Linked DNA regions of Homo sapiens. The protein of the gene in region 2 purifies or fractionates together with the protein of the main gene of each other region. This does not show direct contact. Each region holds a gene or a part of one and is shown on either strand. Other genes may lie near its edges.

Region 1 (5,096 bases), on a different chromosome or scaffold from region 2:
AACATTTATTAATATGGAGGTATATGGTTTTCAACAAGTATTAATTGATTACATACTTTGTGCAAAGCAAGAAATTGATGTTGTGGAGCATATGTGTTGTAGTCCAAGTCCAGGATAAGCCAGCATTGATGGCATACATTCATGGTATTTTTCTAAAATGTTGAATTAAAGTACCTATGTCTGTAATACACTTGTGCTAAATGATTTTGCTATGAGGATAAGTTAAATAAATATGCTTTTTTTACTGCCAAAAAATGGCATTATTATTTTAATCTAGAACAAGAGCAAATTTGCCTCATATCTGAAAATAGAAATATTCTTATGCTGAATGTTTAGGGATGTACTGGCATTGTAAATTATAGTTCCACATTGGGCATTTCTCCCTACCATTGAATCTTCCAAGATGACAGCATAAACCTTCACCACCCAATTATAATTGCTTAGCTGAGCTAATAAAAAAGATGTGGTGTCAACTTAATTGACCTATTTTACTGGCCTACAAGATTGGAATTTCAAATTAGAAAAAGGTAATTTTTAACAGTCTGATGGAGGGTTTCCATCAAGTGACTAAGAAGCTAGTGAAGATAAAAAAAAAAAAAAGCCAGTGGTAAAGGGAACAAATTATAACCACTAATGCTCCTGTACTCACATACTGTCCTAATGGCATATTCAGTTCGAACACAGGAATGATGAATCTTACTTGTATTATGTGCTCTCCGAATTTCTTCCATATTGCCCTGGACTAAAACATGGTTTAATTCACATGAGAATGAAAATGACAGGTACTGTCAGGCAAAAATGATCCTTTTGAAATTCTTCTCATTAAATAATGGTAGGAAGGGCTGGAAACTATATTTTGAATATATATATGTTGAATATATATATATGTTTAAATTTTATTATGTGCATAGTGTGTTGGTTCAAAACCCACTGTAACCAGAAAAAAAAAAAATCTATTTCTAGGGCAATCTGAGGGAATCCTGTAGGAGGTCTTCCACTGGGTAATATGCAATGAATTTGATTTATCTTTCTCAAGTGGGCTGAGAGCATTCAAAAAATTCAGTATGAGTATTCAGCATGTAGTGATCTTTTCTCCAAATTTCAACTTTAAAGCTAATTTCATGCCACTTTTTGATGTCCTTGGCATTTGAATGGCATGATTTATGGCATGCATTTTTGATGAACATTTACAGACTCATATTCAACACCACTAACAGATTCTCTCTCAAGGGAAAGGGGAAGTACTAATCTCCCATTAATTATGCCTTAAGGTAAGAGTGGCCTGTCCAAAGAGTTTTGTCCTGGAGTTTTTTGGTTCTTTGAGGAAGGATGGCTTGCGAGCGAGTCCGCTGCTGCCTTCCAAAACCTGGTGTGCCTTTTCAGTCCCTTACCTCAATAGAGAGCTGAAAGGACAAAAGTGAACAAAGGAGGCCTGTTTTGCCTGCCCCACTTGCTGGGCTGTTGTCTTGGCCCTTTTCAGTGAAGGGAGGGGGGAGCTGGGTCAAAGTTGAAGAACACTGAAAAGGAATTCAAGCTTCATGTTGAAATTTGAATTATAGCTTCAGTTTGAGTGCCGAGTAGATTAGTTCGAATTGAAATTTGTGAATCTGTGGAAGCTTAAGTGACAGATGGTGTTGGAACAACCTACATAGAGCTGGATGGCACACCCGAAATGTTGAGTGCCCAAGCGAGGCACTTGGTAAACATCTAGTTAACTGACAAAAGTTTTAAAACTGTAGGAAGTTCAGTTTGCTGCTGTACGCTGCATTAAAACATTGGACTGTGTGAATTAAGGGGAGGCCCCTGTGTCTGGCGCTCACTCAGATGCACTTGTTCCCCCTAATTGCATTGCAAATATTCTTCTGACTGTTCTGCGGCTTTCCCCTCTATTATCTAGTTGAATAAATACAGAAATGCCCAACCAGCTTCCCTTGTAAAATTGCATCGCAGTGTTGTGGTGTTGTCCACAGATTGTTTTGATGTGCAACAAGATACATCTGTCCTAAATATTGTCTAACCAGTGTTTTTTCTTCCCAGATAAGTATATTTATGAAGTGTGATTTTGGCTTTCTGCTCCCGGTGGGAGTCCATCACTCTTATATTTACTCTCGAAGTTTTTCATATGGCACATGGTTTTCCATTCATTTTGGTAGGCAGCATCTGATTGAAAACATTTCAGTAGGAAACGTTTTCTAGTGTGTGCATCACTAGAATAATAAAAGCAGCTACTAGGAGGTAGAGGGTACTAGAATGTATTATAATAAGTGAAATAAAAAGCAATTTTGGGTAATTTGAAATTCTTCCTGGTATTCTGTAAAACTGCGATTGGAAATGGAAAAATTGTAGTATTTGAAAACTGAAAAATTGAAAGTTGAAACATCACCAAATTTTGCTTTCGCATCTTTGACTGCTTAAATGACTCGACATAGTCTTTTCTTCTGATGTTAGTAGCATGATGGCTAAAAGCCATTTTTGTAAATGTATATTTAGTACATTCAAATGAATATTTCTACTTTTAGGGAAATAACATTGACATGGCAATATTTGAACAGTTAGTAACATGGAAATTCCAACATAATAAATACTCTAATGTGAACAACATCTAATTTACTTCAGAATGATTATATTAACTTACACGACATGTTGTGTTTTACATGAATCATGATATATACCTTGTGTGTTTCATGAATTTTAAGGTAAATTTCATTTTAATAGATGTGCTGGGGTTTAAAAAACTCCATGGTTATGTTTACGTTTCTAGTAACAGTTACTGTGATGTGAAATTATAATGGAAGGTAAATAGATGTCAAGGGTTCACTGCTGTCCTAAAACCATGAGGGGGTTCATTAAACAGCAGAGAGGGAGTGAGTTCATGATCAGACTCATTACCTCTAAAGGTAATAGCTTAAAATTTGAAAGAAAGAGAAAGGGAAAAGAATAAAAGTTTTTATGGCTATTGCCTGGCTAATGGAGAATAGTCTCCACTTCATAGCACTCAATACGAAATATTCTAGGGATATTTTACTGTAGTACTTTGGGTCATTGCAGTAACTTGACATCATAAAATAGAAATAACTCATAAGTCACCTTACAAAAATGAAATATGATAAGACATTTACATTTAAAAGAAATGTATTGAGAAGAATTTACTAAGAATTGAAAGCTAAAGTTATTTCAGTGTAACATGCTTAAATTCCTAGCCAAATCCACTCTATTTTCCAGCTGTTTTGTTCCTTTATGTACAGGTGGCCCTAGCTTGAGAAAGTTAGCATATGAAAATGTGAACTTGGTCGGGCGCAGTGGCTCACACCTGTAGTTCCAGCACTTTGGGAGGACAGAGTAGGCGGATCATGAGATCAGGAGTTCAAGAGCGCCCTGGCCAGCATGGTAAAACCCCCTCTCTACTAAAAATACAAAAACAAAAATTAGCCAGGCATGGTGGTGCGTGCCTGTAATCCCAGCTACTCGGGAGGCTGAGGCAGGAGAATCACTGGAACCCAGGAGGCAGAGGTTTCAGTGAGCCAAGATTGTGCCACTGCACTCCAGCCTGGGCAATAGAGCGAGACGCTGTCTAAAAAAAAAAAAAAAAAAAAAAAAAGAAAGAAGTGAACTTGGCAAACCCATATGGGGTGACTGTTCACATCAAAGAGGATTCTTCACTTTGCATAAGGATTATATGATGAGTGAGCTGCTGTAATGTATCAAAGTTCAATTCATGAAAAATTTTTCAGAAATATCTAAGTAGAGACTCTGTTGAAAGAGCAAATAGATACCAAGTGAAACCTAAGCAAATAAGGCTGAATAAAAATTAGTAAAGAGGTAGACAGGTGGGTCTGGGTGTGGTGGCTCATGCTAATCCCAGCACTTTGGGAGGCCTGGGCGGGCAGATCACTTGAGGTCGGGAATTTGAGACCAGCCTGGCCAACATGGTGAAACCCCATCTCTACTAAAAAAATGCAAAAATGAGCCAGGTGTGGTGGTGGGCGTCTGTAATCCCAGCTACTCAGGAGGCTGAGGCAGGAGAATCACCTCAACCCAGGAGGCGAAGGTTGCAGTGAGCTGTGATCATGCACTTGCACTACAGCCTGGGCAACACAGCGAGACTCCATCTCAAAAAAAAAAAAAGACATAGGTTGTAAATGCAGAGAGAACATACGATTGTATAAAAATATTTGATATTTGCTCTAAATAACATTGAGGGGCCGAGTCTGCATGATAAAGAAAAGCAGATAACTAGTCATCCAGGCATTGGGGGCCCTTGCTTATCTTAGTCAGCTTTCTCCATGTCTCCTAACTTCGGAAACCATCCTTGCTCTGTTCTGCGAGGAGCCTGAGCTGCTCTTCACATTATGCATGGTGGTATGTATCTGAGAGCCCCCAAATTTGATAAATGAGTGTGTGCAAGAATGAATGACTGAATACATGAATATTGCAAAATGTCAGAATGTCAGGTGGATCTTTGTTGGGGAAAATTGGGGGGTTTTGTTCTCAGCCCTGGTTTGAAGACATAGATAGATCTAGACCATGAGAAACCAAACATTTATAATTTCATGCCTGGACTCTGTAGATTGTAATTTGCTTGCTGGTTCTAAATTAGGCACTTGAGCAAGCAGGTGAAATCATTGAATCCAGAAGGGTACTATTTAAAAAATTTCTGCTGCGGAGGTCTAAATGACATCCTTGTGACCCCAAAGAGTTCCTCTATAATTTTCTACCTTTGCTAATGGCAGATGATTCCAGATTTGCACGTGGCTTTCCTTTCCCTTCACTGTCTGAAGCTGGTGCTTGTCATTTTCCTCCGGAGGTCTCTGGGTGGCTGCACACTGACTGAGTTAAGCACTTTCTGAGATTGCTTTCTACCCTCTGAATTTGAAGAAATCAGAAGTGAGGCACACAGAACTGAAATGAAAAATGAAGAGACTGGTTTGTGAAACAGATCAGAAGCTCTCATGCTGTAGCTTTAAAAATGGAACTTTCTCCCTTAAGATGTGAGTTGAACTACAGCATGGCCTTTCGTAACTAGTTAGTGGGTTATAGGGGTTGGATTCAGGGCAGTGGTGCCATATTAGAGACACCTAGAATAAAAAGTTATGTAA
Region 2 (5,096 bases):
GATGGAAAATAAAGGGTGTTGGCCAGGCACGGTGGCTCACACCTGTAATCCCAGCACTTTGGGAGGCCAAGGCGGGTGGATCACCTGAGGTCTGGAGTTCGAGACCAGCCTGACCAACATGGAGAAACCCCATCTCTACTAAAAATATAAAATTAGCCAGGCGTGGTGGCACATGCCTGTAATCCCAGCTACTTGGGAGGCTGAGGCAGGAGAATCGCTTGAACCCAGGAGGCGGAGGTTGCAGTGAGCTGAGATCACGCCATTACACTCCAGCCTGGGCAACAAGAGCGAAACTCTGTCTCAAAAGAAAAAAAAAGAAAGGGTGTAGGGAAGCTTTGGAGTCATAAAGACAGGGGTGGGATTCAGGTAAGGGGGAGATGTCAGATTCCAGCTCTGACAACCTTATGGCCTCAATTTACTCTTCTGTAAAGTGGTAATACAAAGCCTGTCTTTGGGGATCATTTTAAGGATTAAAGATAACAGTACATGACACAGTAGGCACTTAACCAGTGAGAGCTGTGACTATTAATAATTAGCTCCAGCACCATCCTTACTGATGCAGATGGCAGATTTGGGGTAAAAAATTGTAAGCCCAGAAATAATGCAGATTTTTGGAGGTCTGTCACAAAGTTCAAGGATTTGGTTTCACAGAAGTAGTTTCAGAGCCATGCTGAGGCCCAACTTAAATCATGAGTAGAATTCATCATAAACTTGGAAGCAGCAAGGTCACACCAGTACCAGCAAGAAGTGACAGCTAAAGGGGGAGGGTATTCAGCTCAGTCCAGCCGACACTGAGGGCATCCCTGCCATGTGCAAGTGTATTAAGGGGTATGGCAGGTGCTAGTGGCCCTGCCCTCCAGGAGCTTAAAGCTAGTGGAAGAGGCTGTCCCACAAACCAGGGGTCCCCGGCCTCTTAGGAGGTGAGCAGCGGGGCGAAGGGGCATTACAGCCTGAGCTCCACCTCCTGTTGGATCAGCAGGGCATTAGATTCTTTGTTGTTGTTGTTGTTGTTGTTGTTGTTGTTGTTGAGATGGAGTCTTGCTTTGTTGCCCAGGCTGGAGTGCAATGGCGCAATCTCAGCTCACTGCAACCTCCGCCTCCCAGGTTCAAGCTATTCTCCTGCCTCAGCCTCCCGAGTAGCTGGGATTACAGGCGCCCACCACCACACCTGGCTAATTTTTGTATTTTTAGTAGAGACAGGGTTTCACCATGTTGGCCAGGCTGGTTTCAAACTCCTGACCTCAGGTAATCTGCCCACCTAGGCCTCCCAAAGTGCTGGGATTATAGGCTGAGCCACCGCGCCCAGCCAAGATTCTCATAGGAGTGCGAACCCTACCGTGAATTGCACATGCAAGGGATCTAGGTTGCGTGCTCCTTATGAGAATCTAATGCCTGATGATCTGAGGTGGAACAGTTTCATCCCAAAACCATCCCTCCCCTCCCCTAGTACATGGAAAAATTGTCTTCCAAGAAACCAGTCCCTGGTGCCAAAAAGGTTGGGGACAGCTGCCATAAATGCTTTACCTACATCCAAATGCTATAGGGACACAAAGAAGGGCACAGAACTAGTAAAGCAAGATGTGTGAGGGCAGGCAGTGAAGGAGTGAACACCCTAGCATACTTCCAGAGCTTTCCACAGGCCAGGCACAGTGGCGCACACCTGTAATCCCTGCCCTTTGGAAGGCCAAGGCAGGAGGATCGCTTGAGCCCAGAAGTTCAAAACCAGCCTGGACAACATGGCAAAACCCCATTTCTACAAAAAAAATAGAAAAATTAGCTGGGCATGGTGGCATAAGCCTGTAGTGCCAGCTACTCAGGAGGCTGAGGCAGGAGGATCACTTAAGCCTAGGAGGTCGAGGCTGCAGTAAGTAAGCCATGATGGTACCACCATACTCCAGCAGTTTTTGAGACAGAGCAAGACCCTGTCTCAAAAACAAAAACAAACAGAACTTTCCACAGGGCAGGAGAGTAACTGGTATCTTGACAATGATGATTAAGAATGGGACCTATTACATATATAAAATACATTCTGTTTAAAAAGTGGATGGAAAAAGAACAAGTTTTTGGAAAAACTTTATAACATGAGAGATGCTCAAAATATGATACAGAGAAAGAAGAGTTGGGTAGGAAATTATATTATTTAGTATGAGCTCAATTCCATGGAAAAAGGCAGGAAGGAGAATAACAAATATTGATAGCTGTGATCTCTAGAGAGTGTTGGGTGAGTTTTGGTTTCTCTTCTGTATTTTCCAAAGTTTTAATAATATACATGCCTTAATTTTTTAAGGTAGAAGAGGTGTAATTTTTTTTTTGTGTGGTTTTTGTTTTGTTTTGTTTTGAGAGAGAGTCTCAATCTCTCGCCCAGGCTGGAGTGCAGTGGCTCGATCTCAGCTCACTGCAACCTCTGCCTCCCAGGTTCAAGCGATTCTGCTGCCTCAGCCTCCCGAGTAGGTGAGATTACAGGCGTCCACCACCATGCCCAGATAATTTTTTGTATTTTTAGTAGAGACAGGGTTTTGCGATGTTGCCCTGGTTGGTCTCAAACTCCTGATCTCAGGTGATCCACCCGCCTCGGCCTCCCAAAGTGCTGGGATTACAGGCATGAGCCACAGCGCCTGGCCGTGTAATGTTCTTTTGAATATTCTGAGGAGGGCAGGAGATCCATGACACTAAGAGGCTGGCTGCCTTCCTGTGTATGACAAGGATTTGTGGATTATATTATTCAGTGTTAACTAATCTAATCTTCACAACAGGGCTAAGTGTTCTTAAAATGTCCTGCAAAGAAGCCATGGCTTGAGATTAATGCCAATTACCCTGGCACATAACAAGGAAAATGACAACCTTCTCTTCCTGGTATGAACTCGTTGTCAATCGCCAGGTAAAAACAATGAAGGACTAATCAGGTCTAATAAATCAGCCTGTGCATGGAAAAATAACGACTGTGGGGAAGAAACTCACACTATGGAGGGGGTGTTGTAAAAACGTGTTGAGAAATGCATCCATAGTGATTAATGTCAGTGCCCCAAACTTTCCTACCTGCACACTCAAAACACTTGGAAAAAGAATTTTCTAGATAGGGTCTTGCTACATTGCCCAGGCTGGTCTCGAACTCCTGGCTTCAAGTGATCCTCCCAGTGCTCAGCGTCCCAGCCTACTAGCCAATTTTTAAACAAAAATGTTTGTTTAATTGGTAGAAGGACTAAAAATGGGGAGAATTATTTAGAAATGATGGATGAACTTTTTTCACTTCAATCTATTTGTCTTTGTGAGGCATATTTAATCTATAGCCACCATGAAATGCATGTTTTGAAATAACTTTGATTTTCAACACGTTAGACCTGTGAGTCATGAGTCATAAAGTGTCAGACTAAAATTTTTTAAAAACGTGAAGTACATGTAATCACATTGCTCTTATTAAAATTATTTAGACAATTTTTTTGTTGAACAACCTTCAACTTTCATGAACTACGCAAAATATGGACCCTTCAGGAATTTGCATAGCATCCTTGTGCAGGGCCATGCTAATCTTCTCTGTATTGTTTCACTTTTTGTACATGTGCTGCCAAAGTGAGCATATTAAACAATAATTATTATAATTGATCTTTTTTTTTTTTGGAGAAAGGGTCTCACTCCATTACCCAGGGTGGTATACAGTGGCATGACCATGGCTCATTGAAGCCTCTACCTCCTGGGTTCAGGAGATCCTCCCACTTCCCACCTCCTGGGTAGCTGGAACTACAAGTGTGCACCATCACACCTGGTTAATTTTCCTATTTTTTGTAGAGACATGGTCTCTCCATGTTGTCCAGACTGGTCTCGAACTCCTGGGCTCAAGTCATCCTCCTGCCTCAGCCTCCCAAAGTGCTGGGATTACAGGTGTGAGCCACCTCTCCCAGCCAATTAATCACTTTTGAGTGAGCACAAAAAAATGTTTTCATACCACTAGTAAAAAAAAAAAAAAAAAAAAAAGGTGTTTTTTTTGTTGTTTTTTTTTTCTTTGTTTATTTTTTTGAGACGGAGTTTCGCTTTTGTTGCCCAGGCTGGAGTGCAATGGCACGATCTTGACTCACCGCAACTTCCGCCTCCAGGATTCAAGCAATTCTCCTGCCTCATCCTCCCGAGTAGCTGGGATTACAGGCATGTGCCACCACACTCAGCTAATTTTGTATTTTTAGTAGAGATGGGGTTTCTCCATGTTGGTCAGGCTGGTCTCGAACTCCTAATCTCAGGTGATTCACCCGCCTCAGCCTCCCAAAGGGCTGGGATTACAGGCATGACCCACCACGCGCAGCCAAAAAAATGTTTTAAACTTAAAAGTATTTAAAAATCTTTAGCTAATGTTTTATACTCTTTTGTTCTTATACATATTTTACTATATATAATATTAGTCATATTAGTATGGAAGTAGGTTTTATTTACACACACATATACATATATAAGTTAAATGTACACACACATAGTTTGGTCATGTAAGCTCAATATTTTGTTTTACTAATAGGAGTTCATTATCAAAATCTTTGATAATCAGGCCGGCAATCAGGCCGGGCGCGGTGGCTCACATCTGTAATCCCAGCACTTTGGGAGGCCAAGGCAGGTGATCACCTGAGTTCAGGGGTTCGAGACTAGCCTGGCCAACATGGTGAAACCCCATCTCTACTAAAAATACAAAAATTAGCCAGGGGTGGTGGCAGGTGCCTGTAATCCCAGCTACTCGGGAGGCTGAGGCAAGAGAATTGGTTGAACCCAGGAAGCAGAGGTTGCAGTGAGCCGAGATCGCGCCACTGCACTCCAGCCTGGGTGACAAGAGTGAAACTCCTTCTCAAAAAAAAAAAAAAAAAATCTTTGGCAATCACTGATCTAGAACACTCACCAAATTATTTGGACAACCTTGCTTCCCGGAGGATTGGAAGGTGCTACTACAGTGAGTCATTTTCCAAGGAGTCTGGCCCTGGTACTGGAGCCAGGTGAAAGAGAAGTTGGTGGGTACAGGCAAGAGGCCATGAGTTTGGTGCTGCCAAAAGGCCAGGACTCCTGAGGCTCAGCCTTTCCCTGTTCACGTCCTCTCCCCTGACTCCCTTGGGTGCCCCATTGCCACC
Region 3 (5,096 bases), on a different chromosome or scaffold from region 2:
CAAAAGTCAGGCTTTTAGAGTCTCCACGTAACAGGAAGGCGGGGACGGGAGGGCGGAGGCCTGTGCCACGCAGGGCCGGCTCTGGGGATACAGAGGGCCATCCTGGGCATTCAAATGCCGCTTGCTTGGGGTGCTGTGGGGCCCTCACGGGAGTGCAGCCGCCTGGGGCTTGACAACATCCCCGCACTCCCGGTACCACCTGAGGCCAGTTCCTCCAGCCCTATTCAACCACTCTCACCACCACCTCATCTAGACATGAGTTGCCCCTGCCGGGAACCGCCCCGCAGCCACCCACCCAGGCCGCCTCAGCGGGGGCTTTGGGACCCAATCTTCAAGCCCCACCCTTCACAACAGGCCTAGGCGGCCATCCCCAGGGCAGTGAGCAGGAGCACAGACCTGCAAGGACCACAGCCCCACACGGGCCAGGCTAGGATGAAGGGCCCCCACTACCCATGCTGCCCCGCAGCCGTGCCCTCCCTGCACTCACCTTGAAGGTGGGCAGACGGATGGTCTTCAGCATGTAGAGGCAGAAGGCGATGCCCAGGGCATCCTGGAGGACCCAGGCCCACCTGCAAGACAAAGCAGCATCCTCGCCGGGGCAGAGGCTGGCTGACCACCCAGGACGCCGCCTCCCACGAGCCACACAGGGCCCTTGCTCTCAGCCAGCACGCAGCCCCACTGCCCTTCCACCTGCCCAGGGGATGACTCTGAGGACCCCAGACCTGTGGGAGGACCCCTGCTGTTACAACTCCAGCAGGGCTGGCGGCACAGGCCCCACCCCAGGGCCCACCCTGCGGAAGCAGGTAGAGGAGCCCACCACTCGGCAGCCAGGACAGTGGACACAGGCCTGGCCGGCTGCGTCTCCTCGGTCGCTGTCCCCAGATGGTGGGGCCAGGACGGTGGACACGGGCCTGGCCGGCTGCGTCCCCTCAGTCGCTGTCCCCGGATGGTGGGGCCAGGATGGTGGACACGGGCCTGGCCGGCTGCGTCCCCTCAGTCACTGTCCCCGGATGGTGGGCGTCACGCTGTAGGCAGGGGTCACAGGCTGTAGGCAGGGGCCAGGCAGAGGGTGCGTGCGCAGGAGGGCTTGGGCACTGACCCCTCCAAACTGTTTTTATTTTGTTTTTGAGATGGAGTCTCACTCTGTCACCCAGGCTGGAGTTTGGTGGCACGATCTTGACTCGCTGCAACCTCCACCTCCCAGGTTCAAGCAATTCTCCTGCCTCAGCCTCCCAAGTAGCTGGGATTACAGGCACACACCACAATGCCAGGCAAATTTTTTTGTATTTTTAGTAGAGATGGGGTTTTGTCATGTTGGCCAGGCTGGTCTCAAACTCCTGACCTCAAGTGATCTGCCCGCCTCACCTCCCAAAGTGCTGGGATTACAGGCATGAGCCCCCGTGCCCAAACTGTTTATTAAATTAAAACTTGTGCCACACCAGGTTTCCTCAAAGAACCTCTGGGTCCACAGTGGGTGGGGCTGCCATGCGGTTGGTGCCCTGGGGCAAAGCACAGAACTGCCTCCTGCACAAGGCCACGGCCCCTGCAGCCAGCCGCAACTTCGGCTCTCTCCTGGCCCCACGAAGCCCCAGAGTCCCCTCCCCGCTGGCCCCTGCCCCCAATGCAGGCTCTGCCTGTCACTTGCTGGACGAGTTCCCCAGCGTTCCTCAGCGTCTCAAACATCAAAGGCTTCATTTGAAAATGGGATAAAAACATCTCCAGGGCGGGGCGGCTGCTAACAGCAGAGGCCTCCATGGGAGACGCTGGTACAGCCAATTCCAGGCGCCACGTACTTCAAGCACCCAGAGAACTGCGGCCAGTTATTTTTTCTGATTTTATATTATTTCTTAAATAGGGCGTCTCGCTTGTTGCCCAGGCTGGTCTTGAACTCCTGGGCAAAGTGATCGTCCTGCCTTGGCCTACCAAATGCTGGGATCCCAGGCGTGAGCCCCTGCGCCCAGCTGACTGAGGCCTGCTCTAACTTCATGTGACGGAGCGAGTTTCCTGGCTTGGAAATAACTGAAAAGATTCATTTTCTCTTTGTGTACAAAGGATTCAAAATATTTTCACATCTTCCTTCTGCCAGTTAAACGTGCCGTGGCTCCAATACACACCAAAGCCAAGCGTACTTGGCTGCCTCAGGAAGGCTGGGAGGAAGTGCCAGATGGTATCAGCGACAGCGGTGGGGACCGGGCGGGGACGGGCCAGCTCTGTCCTCCCAACACGGCACCAGGCACTCGGCCTCATGGGGGAGGCCCGGCCAGCGGGAGGCAGCCACAAGTCCAGGCCACGTGGGAGGTGAGCGTGGGGGGAGCAGTGCCTGCCCCACCTCCACCACTGCTCAGAAGCCGCAGCAGTCATGACCAAGAGGACCGGGTGCCCTGGTGCCCACACCCTGGGCCTCGAACCTGCGGCGTGCACGTGGGTGCCAGGAAAGGGACAGCGGGGGACAGACTGTGGCCCTGGGCAGCGATGCCCCACAAAGGAGTCCCATCCAGGCTGGAGGACGTGGCTCCTGGCCACAGGGGCTCCGGCCTCTCCTCCCGGATTCCAGTCAGGGTTCCCATGACACCCGGACAAACCCCAGGTGAAACGCCCTCGCAGCCCTGTCAGAGCAGCCCGGGGCCAGGGCTCTTCATCACGCGGTGCTGAAGCAGCTCCAGGCTGGGGCGGCCTCCAGGGAGGGCAGGGAGTCAGGGCCCCAGGAGCCCTGGTGCACCCGAGGACTCCGCTGCCCGCCGGGGCCCGGGGGAAGCAGCACTTACTGGTCCTCGTTGCGGAAGACGCCCCACACCACGCTGACGGCCACGCAGAAGAGCGCCAGGAGCAGCATACGGGCCTGCGGGCGCTTGTGGAAGTAGGGCAGGCTGTTGTTGGGGATCCTGGGGGGCACGGGGCAGTCAGAGCCAAGCCCACCAGCTCCCGGCCTCATCCCACTGCCCACCACCCTTGGGACCGGCCCAGGCACCCCCTGCAGAGTGGCAGCCCCCACTCTGTTGTCCTCATTAAACTCCACATCCCACACGATGACAACAGTAGGCACCCCAAGGGCAGGGCAGAGCCCGACCCGGGCAGGCGCTGGGGGCCACGGGCTGTACCCACAGAGCCCCTCGCCTGCGCTGCGCCCCTTCGCCCGAGGCCCTGCCTGCTCCAGACCTCCCACCTCCTCACCCAGGGACGGCAACACAAAAAGGTCTCCCCCTGGGCTAGCCCCGCTTCCTAGACCCAGGTCTGACTTTGTTGGAGACCCCCCAGCAGCTCCCTTTACCCCTAAGAGCCAGGCCAAGCTCTGGGCTGTGGGGAACCTTCTGGGTTCCCCGGAGAACCCTGGGGAACCCAGGGTTCGGCCTGCGACCTGGGGCAGGGTTCCTGGGGACAAGGGCACCCTCCCCCCGCCACCCCTGGCGCCTGGCTGCTGGTGGGCTCCATTGATAGCTCGCCCAGACTCCGCCCTGCTCCTGGGCCTAGGAGCCCCAGGCCAGCACTGAGGGAGCGCCTGCTGTAGACTCTGAGCAATATTGCACCATGGGGGGCTATGGGGCGGCAAAGGGGCCGTGGCCATCACCGCACAGAGTCAGGCACGTCGGGGCCAGCAGGGCAGACTCACCTGCACTTGCCGAAGGGCAGCCGCCGCACACAGGGCGCCAGGCAGCTGTAGAGGCCGGTGGCGGAGGCCAGGCAGAAGATCCCGATGACCACGTACACTGCAGGGGCAGGGCCGTGAGGCCGGGGGCCAGGCCCGCACGCCACCCTCCCTCCGCACGGGGCGGGCTGCATCTCCACGCCGCGGCCCACCCGCCCGGGGCCGCGCACCGAGGAGATCGTAGAAATAGTAGAGCAGCACCAGCATGGAGCAGCACATCACCACAAACACGCAGGTCATCACCGGCGTCACGTCCACCGCCTCGTCCTCCTGCTTCTCGGGCCCATCGTCGCGCTTGTGCTTCATGTACCTTCTTGGGAGACACCATGGGGTCGTGGGGCCCTGGGGCCGGCTGGCCGACACGGGGCTCGGGAGCCCACAGCCACCCGGGGGAACGGGGCAGAAAACCCGGGAGCAGGAGGGGACCCGGGGGGGACTGAAGTGCAAGGAACCGCCCCGAACGTCCCCAGGGCAGAGGAGACCACACAGCAGAGGGTGGCAGGGCCCGCGTCCCTGGGTTGAGCTGGGGTGGCCACTAGGCCGGGCCAGAGGCTGGCGTGTGGGCAGCAACCGCAGCTTGGATCTGCATAAAGAGCCCTGGACATGGGGCCTCCCCAGACCCAGGCGGCTCAGCAGGAAGAGGGTAGCTGGCCCCAGCCACCTGCCCAGCCCTGCACCTGCCACGCCCGTACCTGCCACATCCACACCTGCCCAGCCCTACACACCCACCAGGTGCCCGGAGCCCACCCTGGCAGGAAAAGAGACTGATTCTGTCCCAGGACCTCCTGAGGAAGAAACGAAGGGCTCCACGGGGCGAGCCGTGCCTGCCGAGGCCAAAGCACTCACTGCTGTTCTGGAAGACTGGCCGTCCCGGCCCGTGTCAGAGCCGCCCGACCCCGTCACAGCACACGCACGATGCGAAACTCACTTCTTCACGTCCCGACTCCCGGCCCAGTAGCCGCCGATGGCGACGGTGCCCACAGCCATGATGAAGATGATGACCATGTTGTAGTCCAGCACCGGCTCCTTAGGCGCATACAGCGCCGCCCTCACCGTGCGGCCGAAACGCTGCCTCAAGGAACACACCGGAGGCAGGCGTCAGAGCCACCCGCCAGCCATGGGTCGACGTGCAGCTGTGGGCTGTGGGGCTGGGGCTGGAGACCCTGGCCTGCAGGGGCCACGCCTCACCCACCACCCTGATCCCACCAACTGAGGCACAAACCCCCCCGGCAGCCAGCCCGAAGCCCCCTGCCCCATCTCCTCGGGAGCGTGGGTCTGAGCCGGCGCAGACCTACCGTGAAGATGTCCAGCATGTCTTTGTAGCTGAGCAGGGCCACGGGAATGCCAATCTCATCATACTGCGTCTTATTACCCCCCGGGGGGACCTGGGGGCCCAGAGGAGGGAGCGGCAGGCATCACCCGCAGCAGTGGGTGGGCCCCCAGCTCTGTGCCC
Region 4 (3,500 bases), on a different chromosome or scaffold from region 2:
TGTCTTTAACAGCCCTTCTCATTCTTAGTCTATGGCTCTTGAGCAGCAAGGCTAGAGAGGAAGGCAGGAAAAGAACGACTAATCCATGACTAGTTGATGGAGTGTTCATCATGTGCCAGGCACCACTCTAAGCTCTTCAGATGTATTAATCCATCTAATCTGCTTAGCAACTCTTCAGGTAGGTTAGGTGCATGGAAGTTATGTCTAGGCCACTTAACCTTTAAGTGTCAGAGCTGGGATTTGAACCCAGGCAACCTGGTACACAGCCCACACTCTTAACCATTAAACTATAAGAAATGTAAGAAATCACAGGCCAAGCTCTAATAAGCAGGTTCATCCTTGGAGAAAGCCCAGAAAGAGTTCCTATTGCCTCTGGCATTTGCTGCCTCCACCACCTACCCACCCTCAGCTCCTCCCTACTTGCCCCCAACTCCCACCAAGTCCTTTTCTTCCTGATTAGTCAACACTCCCCAGCCATGACACCTTTACCCACTTGAAAGTCCTACCCTGTTATCAAGGAAACAGGCTTGGTGCTCTGTGGAGAGTCCGTAGCACCATGATCAGCCCTGCCCACTTTGCAAAGTCAAGGCCTCAGCAGACCTGACCACTGCGGGTTACACCCCCAGCCAGGCCTCTGCCCCAAGCTGGATCCTCGCCTTGTAGGTACAAGTGGGACTCAATCACCATCATGCAACATGCCTCCCCTGAGCACCTACTGTGTGCACAGGCCCCAGGGGCAGCATTCAGAGGAGGATATGGATGAACTACAATCCTGACCTCTGGGAGCCCACAGTCCAGCAAGGAAAAGCAGTCCTGTAAACGGATCTCTAAGATACCCCGTGGGCAGTGCTAAAATTAGAGGTGTGTCCCCAATGGGCTGAGGGCGCATGTGTCAGAATGATTCACCCTGTGTGGTGGGAAAAGGAGGCTCTAAGTGCCTCAGCGTGAGCTCATTTCTCCCGCAGACATCCCCATGACTTACTGGAAGGGCCAAGGAGCACCTACCTGAGGATGCAGGGACCTGGGGTACATGCCAGCTCTGACAAGTGAGCCTCAAACACACCCTTTTGCAGCCCCAAAGTTCCCTGCCGAAAACAAGAGGGCCCTGAGTGTGGGACAGATAACCATAAGTGGTTTAGGGGTATACCTATCATAGGGACTTACAGACTGAGCTTTCCTCGTTCAATGCCCTTTCGACCCCTCCGATTGCATCAAGGAGCGGGTCTCAGTTTGGGTGCTAGTTTGTCTTTCAGCCCCTCAAGCACTTGCCAACCTACCTTTTGAACAGAGAGGGTAGGCGTCAGGGTCACAGCCTTCAGCACCCATGACATCCAGCTAGGATTTAGTATCATTGTTTTGTTTTCCCTGTACTGTACTTATTTTAAACCTTTACCTGCTATTTATGATGGGCGTCTTGGTTTCCCATTCATAATACTGATATAAAGCCTCCTTTTAAAAATAAATTTAAAGGCGTGCATATTCAGGGCAACTTGAACCTATGTGCCTGGAAAATAAAAAATATATACTTTAAAAAAGGGAAAAAAAGGAAAAGAAATTTAAGTTTAAAAAGGAAGTTTAGGCTGGACACAGTGACTCACGCCTGTAATCCCAGCACTTTGGGAGGCCCAGGCTGGTGGATCATTTAAGGTCAGGAGGTCGAGACAGTCTGGTCAACATGGTAGAACCCCGTCTCTACCAAAAATACAAAAATTAGCCCATCGTGGTAGTAGGCGCCTGTAGTCCTAGCTACTCGGGAGGCTGAGGCAGGAGAATCGCTTGAGCCTGGAAGGCAGAGGCTGCAGTGAGCCAAGATCACACCATTGTACTCCAGTCTAGGTGAAAGAGCGAGGCTCTGTCTCAAAAAAAAAAAAAAGTAAGTAAATTTAAATAAACATATTAAGTAAATAATATTACAATTGGTGTCACCTCTATATAGGACAATTTAATAACATCAAAATGTTAAATGCACATACAAAAACAGGCAAAGCTATTCTATACTGCTAGATAATCCAGTGGTGATCACCCACAAAGGTAAGAGATAGTGCCTAGAAGAGGGTTTGAGGGGTATCTGCCTTCTGCTGTCCATTCTGCTGGTTGACCTGGGGGCTCAGTGTACAGGTGTGTTCACTTTGTGAAAACTCATCAAGCTGTATATACTGATGGCAGGTGCGTGTCTGCATGTATAACATATATTCATATACCCCTTAACTCAACAACCCCACTCCTAGAATTACTCCACAGACATATACACCCATGCAAAATGACACATTCAGAGATACTCACTGTGTCACTGTTCTCAGTGAAAGAAAGAAAGGAAGAAAGAAAGAGACGGGGGGGGGAGAGAGAGAGAGAGAGAGAAAGAAAGAAAGAAAGAGAAAGAAAGAAAGAAAAGAGAAAGAAAGAAAGAGAGAGAGAGAAGAAAGAAAGAAAGAGAAAGAAAGAGAGGGAAAGAAAGACTGGGAACAACCTAAGAGTTCCCCAGCTGGGGACTATTAAATAAATGTGGCATAGCCTAGAGTGGAATCTATGTAGCCAACACACAGAATGAGGCAGCTCCTAGCAGATCTCCATAATTCACGTGGATTTAAATTTAAGTGAAAGAGGGGCTACATACGTAGTTCTGTGTATAGTGTGCTACCTTATTTTAAATATACATATGTTTGTCCTAGGACATCCTTTGACTACGATAGCTCAGAAAAGAGTGACAGGAAACTGATAACAAAGGCCTCCTCTGGACTGGGCAGGCCAGGAGAGAGGGGTAGGAGGGGAGGCTTGTCACTAACCACTACCCTTTCCTTTTTTTTTTTTTTTTTTTTGAGACTGTCACCAGGCTGGAATGCAGTGGCGCTATCTAGGCTCACTGCAACCTCCGCTTCCCGGGTTCTAGCGTTTCTCCACCTCAGCCCTCGCTGTAGCTGAAACTACAGGCACACGCCACCATACCCAGCTAATTTTTGTATTTTTAGTAAAGACGGGGTTCCGCCATGTTGGCCAGGACGGTCTTGATCTCTTAACCTCACGATCCGCCCGCCTCAGCCTCCCAAAGTGCTGGGATTACACCTCACCCGGCCTTACCCTTTTCTACTTCTAAATTTTGTAACAAGCCCATGCATGCATTTCTATCAGTAGTAATTTATTTTTTATTTTTTATTTTCTGCAACAGAGTCTCATGCAGGCTGGAGTGCAGTGGCACAATCTCAACTCACTTCAACCTCCGTCTCCTGAGCTCAGGTGATCCTCCTACCTCAGCCTCCCAAGTAGCTGTGACTACAGGTGCATGCCACCACGCCCAGCTAATTTTTGTATTTTTAGTAGAGACAGAGTTTCATCATGTTGCCCAGGCTGGTCTCGAACTCCCAGGTTCAAGCAATCTGCCCATCTTGGCCTTCCAAAGTGCTAGGATTACAGGCATGAGCCACAATGCCTGGTCAATAGTAATTTTTTTTTTTAAACCGAGTCTTACACTGTCACCCAACTACAGTGCCGTGGCACGATGTCAG
Region 5 (5,096 bases), on a different chromosome or scaffold from region 2:
AGAGTCACCTGAGCCTGGGAGGCGGGGGTTGCAGAGAGCTGAGATCGTGCCACTACACTCCAGCCTGGGTGACAGAGTAAAACCCTGTGTCAAAAAAAAAAAAAAAAAAAAAAAAAAGTCAAGTCCTGCCAATGTAGCAGACAGAAGTGAAGGCAAACAGCAAAGGTAGGAGAAAACAAAGAGACATGAGCAAAGTGGCATTGAGCCGTTTATCATGAGAAACGTCATGATAAACCTATGAGGGAGACAGGAGAAAGCAGCTCCAGGGATTTCTGGGAGCCAGTACAATTGCAACTCAAACTCTAACATAAAGCTTTATGCACAATATGGTACAATAACTCAGACTCACACTTAGGGCCCCTGAAGTTGTGTCAGATTGTGAATCAAAGAAAGATTAAATTGTGATCGGTATAGAATACAAGCAAGGCAAGAAAGAATTGAAAGAAATATTAATAGAATATTTTAGGTATTATCAAATAAAGCCAATGTGCTGAAGTACTATAAAACTATAAGGACCGGCTGGGCGCAGTGGCTCATGCCTGTAATCCCAGCACTTTGGGAGGCCGAGGCGGGGGATTCACTTGAGGTCAGGAGTTGGAGACCAGCCTGGCCAACATGGTAGAACCCCGTCTCTACTAAAAAATACAAAAATCAGCCGGGTGTGGTGGTGGATGCCTGTAATCCCAGCTACACGGGAGGCTGAGGCAGGAGAATTGCTTGAACCCAGGAGACAGAGGCTGCAGTGAGCCAAGATCATGCCACTGCACTCTACCTGGGTGACAGAGTGAGACTCCATCTCAGAAAAAATAAAATAAAGAAAGAAAAAGAAAAAGAAAACTATAAGGACCATCTGCAAATGGAAAGAAACGCTTATAAATTCTGCTTAACTCAATCCCAGTCTCCATTTATCACAACAAGCTGTAAACAATCCAGAGAGAAACAAAAAGAGTTATACTACTTAACCTCAATCAGAAAATGAGTTGTACAGACATATCCATTTCCTTACATTATTACATTTGTTAATTGAGGTTTTACTCCATTGAAAAAGACTCATTATTTTAAATATCATTAAAAATCCATTACTTATTTTCTCCTGGATCATTTTGCTGCTAGTTAGACACAAAAAAGATTCAAAGATTTCCTTTAAGAACTTACCTTTCTAAGCATTTCATTATCTTGAACATTATTGAGTTCATGTGAACTAATCTCTCCTTTCAGCATATACTCATAAAATTTTCCACTAACATTTACCAGTAAGGTAGTTGGACTTGACTGCACTTCACAGCTCAGGGTCACATTATTTACATCACTCGGAACATGAATGCCATACCGAAGCACAAGGCCCACCAAAAGACCTGGAAAAAAGAACAACATAAGCTCTTCTTGCCGACAGAGACCACTTCTTTTGTACCCCACGCATAACTATGGATAAGAGAAAATCTCTTACGGTAGTTCCCTGTAGCTCAGAACTGATTTTTAGATGAAATGCAGTTATGTTTTAAAATATTACTAAATTCATACAACAAACAGCCCAATCTTCATATAATCCAGTGAAACAGGAGAGAAAAACATTCCCTAGGACAACAGCACAGATCACTGCATTTCTAGATCAATATTTAAATAAGTAATGAGGAAGGTAACAAAAGGAGAAAATATCTTCAAATCATCTGTAGACAGAATATGCTCCAATGTGTCCCAACTCGACAGTGCAATCGTGTTAGAAATGTGTTTTCTGGCCAGGCGCGGTGGCTCATGCCTGTAATCTTAGCACTTTGGGAGGCCGAGATGGGTGGATTGCCTGAGAGCTCAGAAGTTCGAGACCAGCCTGGGAAACTTGGTGAAACCCCAACTCTACTAAGATACAAAAAATCAGCCGGGCGTGGTGGCGGGCGCCTGTAATCCCAGCTACTCAGGAGGCTGAGGTGTGAGAATTGCTTTAACCCAGGAGGCAGAGGTTGCAGTGAGCCGAGATCATGCCACTTCACTCCAGCCTGGGCAACAAAGTGAAACCCTGTCTCAAAAAAAAAAAAAAAGAAATTTGTTTTTCACCTCCATTCATCAATTTATAAGACTTAAACAATGCACTTCGCAAGTTTATTCCCAAAGCACATGACTGGCCAAACAATGCACATTTAACAAATTGAAAAGTCAATAATATTTGTAGGTTGATTGAGTTCTTCTACTTCTAAAAGATCAGATTTTAATTTTAAAAATCTGCTTCAAAATCAAAACATGGAATAGAAGTCCTGAATCTGGCACTATGACATCAAACAGATTGCTGGATCATCCTACTGACATTCAAATATGCACAATGTTCTAGGTACTGTAAAACTAAATTTTTTTTTTTTCTGAGACGAAATTTTGCTCTGTTGCCCAGGCTGGAGTGCAGTGGCATGATCTCGGCTCACTGCAACCTCCGCCTCCCGGGTCCAATCAATTATCCTGCCTCAGCCTCCCAAGTAGCTGGGATTATAGGCTCACACCAACACACCTGGCTAATTTTTGTATTTTTAGTAGAGATGGGGTTTCACCATGTTGGCCAGGCTCCTGACCAAGGTCGAACTCCTGACCTTGTAATCCATCCACCTCGGCCTCCCAAACTGCTGGGATTACAGACCTGAGCCACCATGCCCAGCCCTATAAAACTATATTGATCGACTATAATTGTTTAGTAATGGCTTTACTGATATCTAATTCAAACACCAAAAGTTTATCCTTTTAAAAACTGTACAATTCAGTGGTCTTTAGTGTATTCACAAAGTTGAACATCAATCACCACTATCTAATTCTAGAACATTTTCCTTCCCTCCAAAAAGAACCCCACACCTACTAGCAGTCACTCTCCATTCCCCCATGCCCGAATCCACAGCCCCTGGCAACCACTCATCTACTTTCTTTCTTTATGGACCTGTCTTTTCTAGACATTTCATATAAATGAACTCCTACAATATATGGCCTTTTGTGTCTGACTTCTTTCACTTAGCATATTTTCAAGGTTTATCTATGTTGTAGCATGCATCAGAACCTCATTTACTTTTACGACCAAACGATATTTCATTGTATGGACATACCTCAACTACAAATAAAACCCAAACTTCTGGAACTTTCCTTAACTCCATGCATAGTATACCACTACTAGCTGCATTTTACCTTCCTATTGCCTTTCATTCTGACTAGCCAGCCATTCTTTTAATACGTGAATGAGTGTACTATGCTAGGTAGGCCTCCAGGGTTCAGAGATGAAAACAAGGTCCCTCCTTCAAGGAAAACTCGGTCCAGTTGGTGAAAACAGACTGAATAAACAATCATAATGTCAAGGAAAACTCGGTCCAGTTGGTGAAAACAGACTGAATAAACAATCATAATGCTATATATATATATGTATACAAGGTATTATAAAAACAGAAAAGAGACAACTATGCAACCCTGGGGGAGTAAGACATTAGGGAAGTCTTTCCAGAGATGTCACCTGGGCAGGTAACAAACTAGAAGAAATGGGTATATTCCACGTAGGGGAATAGTAGTACATATCAGTCAAGGATGGAGACAACACAGCCCATCCAGTGAATCAAGTAGTTTAGTATGGCTGGCTTATAAAGTGACAAGAGTTGAGGTTTGAAAGATTGGCAGGAGTTGAATCATAAAAGATCTTATCTGTTGGGGAAGGGAATTTGAAGTTTATCCCAAAAGTAAAATGAAGTCATAGAAGGCAGAGGCTTGATAGCAGATTTCTACTTTAGAAAGACTGGTCTAGACTAAAGAGGGTCTAAAAGGCTAGATACAGGGCTACTGTAGGCATTCAGGCAATAAGAGTTTAGGTCCTAACCTAAGAGAGTACTGACAGGAGGCGAGAAGGATTTTTTGAAGGTATTATATTTTAGGAAGATTTAGTGACTGAGGAAGGGAGATGAAAGACTAAGAGGAACCTTAATTGATTTGGTAACCAGGTGGGTAAGTTGGCCTGAGCACCGAGGGGGATAACAAGGACATTCAATGAGGTAAGGAACATACACAGATGAACAGATTTACAGGGGAAAAGGCTACATTCAGTTTTGGACACGTTGAGTTGGATGTACTTGTGACACACGCATAGTTGAGTATGTGGTATCTGGAGCTAAAGCGAGGGGTCTCAACTGGAGATATACACTGTGCAGTCATAAGATGGTTGAAGTCAGATGTAGATGAGATCGCCAGGGGAGCAAGTAAAATGGGAAGAAGACTATGATATAGATCTGGGGTTTGATCTATTAACAGCCAACATTAAGGGGCTGCTAGAGGAGAAGGAGCTGATGAAGGAGTCTGAGAAGGAAAACCCACAGGAGTAGAAAAAAAAAGGAACCAGTGGTGGCAAAGTCAGGAAGAAAGGGAAAAAATTCATTTTTGAGGAGAAGGAAGTGATAAAAACTATCAAATGCTATAGTAAAGTCGAGTAAGGCAGGCATTAGAAGTATCCATTGGGTTTGGCAACAAGGAGGCCATAGGTGACCTTGATAAGAGCAGTTTCAGTGGAGTAGCAGGAGTGGAAACCAGACCCAAGTGAGAAGTGATGAAGCAGAAATGAGGAGGTATAAGAGCAGTCGTTGCCAGCCGGGCGCAGTGGCTCACGTGTAATCCTAGCACTTTGGGAGGCCGAGGCGGGTGGATCACTTGAGGTCAAGAGTTCGAGACCAGCCTGGCCAACATAGTGAAACCTCATCTCTACTAAAAATACAAAAATTAGCCGGGCGTGGTGGCAGGCACCTGTAATCCCAGCTACTTGGGAGGCTGAGGCAGGAAAGTTGCTTGAACCCAGGAGGTGGAGGTTGCAGTGAGTTGAGATCATGCCACCGCACTCCAGCCAGGACAATGGAGCAAAAACTCTGTCCAAAAAAAAAAAAAGGCAGTAGTTGCCCAGGAAGCAGGGAGGGAGCAGAGAGGAGGGATCCTTCTGGTCAATTTATAGTCACATATATTTTTTAGAGTAGTAATGATTCATTCGTGAACAGTAGTATAATGACACCAACTTTAAAAACGTTTAAACAAAGGTTCGAATTTAAAATAAATGAAAGACACCTTTTAAAAATATCTCACCTCCAAAAACAAAATTAAAAACTGAC

What was found.
Region 1: the proteins of MRC2 (region 2) and NRCAM fractionate together in Homo sapiens (co-fractionation; one large-scale study listed by BioGRID). This does not show direct contact.
Region 3: the proteins of MRC2 (region 2) and SPPL2B purify together in Homo sapiens (co-immunoprecipitation; one large-scale study listed by IntAct). This does not show direct contact.
Region 4: the proteins of MRC2 (region 2) and TSPAN15 purify together in Homo sapiens (co-immunoprecipitation; one large-scale study listed by IntAct). This does not show direct contact.
Region 5: the proteins of MRC2 (region 2) and SLC9A6 fractionate together in Homo sapiens (co-fractionation; one large-scale study listed by BioGRID). This does not show direct contact.

The regions. Positions count from the first base shown.
Region 1 is NC_000007.14:108,445,762-108,450,857, reverse strand, and holds part of NRCAM (neuronal cell adhesion molecule isoform A precursor), read left to right. Parts: intron 1-5,096. UniProt on the Homo sapiens protein: Cell adhesion protein that is required for normal responses to cell-cell contacts in brain and in the peripheral nervous system. Plays a role in neurite outgrowth in response to contactin binding.
Region 2 is NC_000017.11:62,682,384-62,687,479, reverse strand, and holds part of MRC2 (C-type mannose receptor 2 precursor), read right to left. Parts: intron 1-5,096. UniProt on the Homo sapiens protein: May play a role as endocytotic lectin receptor displaying calcium-dependent lectin activity. Internalizes glycosylated ligands from the extracellular space for release in an endosomal compartment via clathrin-mediated endocytosis.
Region 3 is NC_000019.10:2,338,684-2,343,779, reverse strand, and holds part of SPPL2B (signal peptide peptidase-like 2B isoform 2 precursor), read right to left. Parts: exon of another isoform or gene 5,029-5,096; coding exon 4,939-5,028; intron 4,716-4,938; coding exon of another isoform or gene 4,712-4,715; coding exon 4,572-4,711; exon of another isoform or gene 4,490-4,571; intron 3,957-4,489; coding exon 3,814-3,956; intron 3,705-3,813; coding exon 3,608-3,704; intron 2,883-3,607; coding exon 2,766-2,882; intron 570-2,765; coding exon 488-569; intron 1-487. UniProt on the Homo sapiens protein: Intramembrane-cleaving aspartic protease (I-CLiP) that cleaves type II membrane signal peptides in the hydrophobic plane of the membrane. Functions in ITM2B and TNF processing.
Region 4 is NC_000010.11:69,454,465-69,457,964, reverse strand, and holds part of TSPAN15 (tetraspanin-15), read right to left. Parts: intron 1-3,500. UniProt on the Homo sapiens protein: Part of TspanC8 subgroup, composed of 6 members that interact with the transmembrane metalloprotease ADAM10.
Region 5 is NC_000023.11:135,991,045-135,996,140, reverse strand, and holds part of SLC9A6 (sodium/hydrogen exchanger 6), read right to left. Parts: intron 1,356-5,096; coding exon 1,156-1,355; intron 1-1,155. UniProt on the Homo sapiens protein: Endosomal Na(+), K(+)/H(+) antiporter. Mediates the electroneutral exchange of endosomal luminal H(+) for a cytosolic Na(+) or K(+).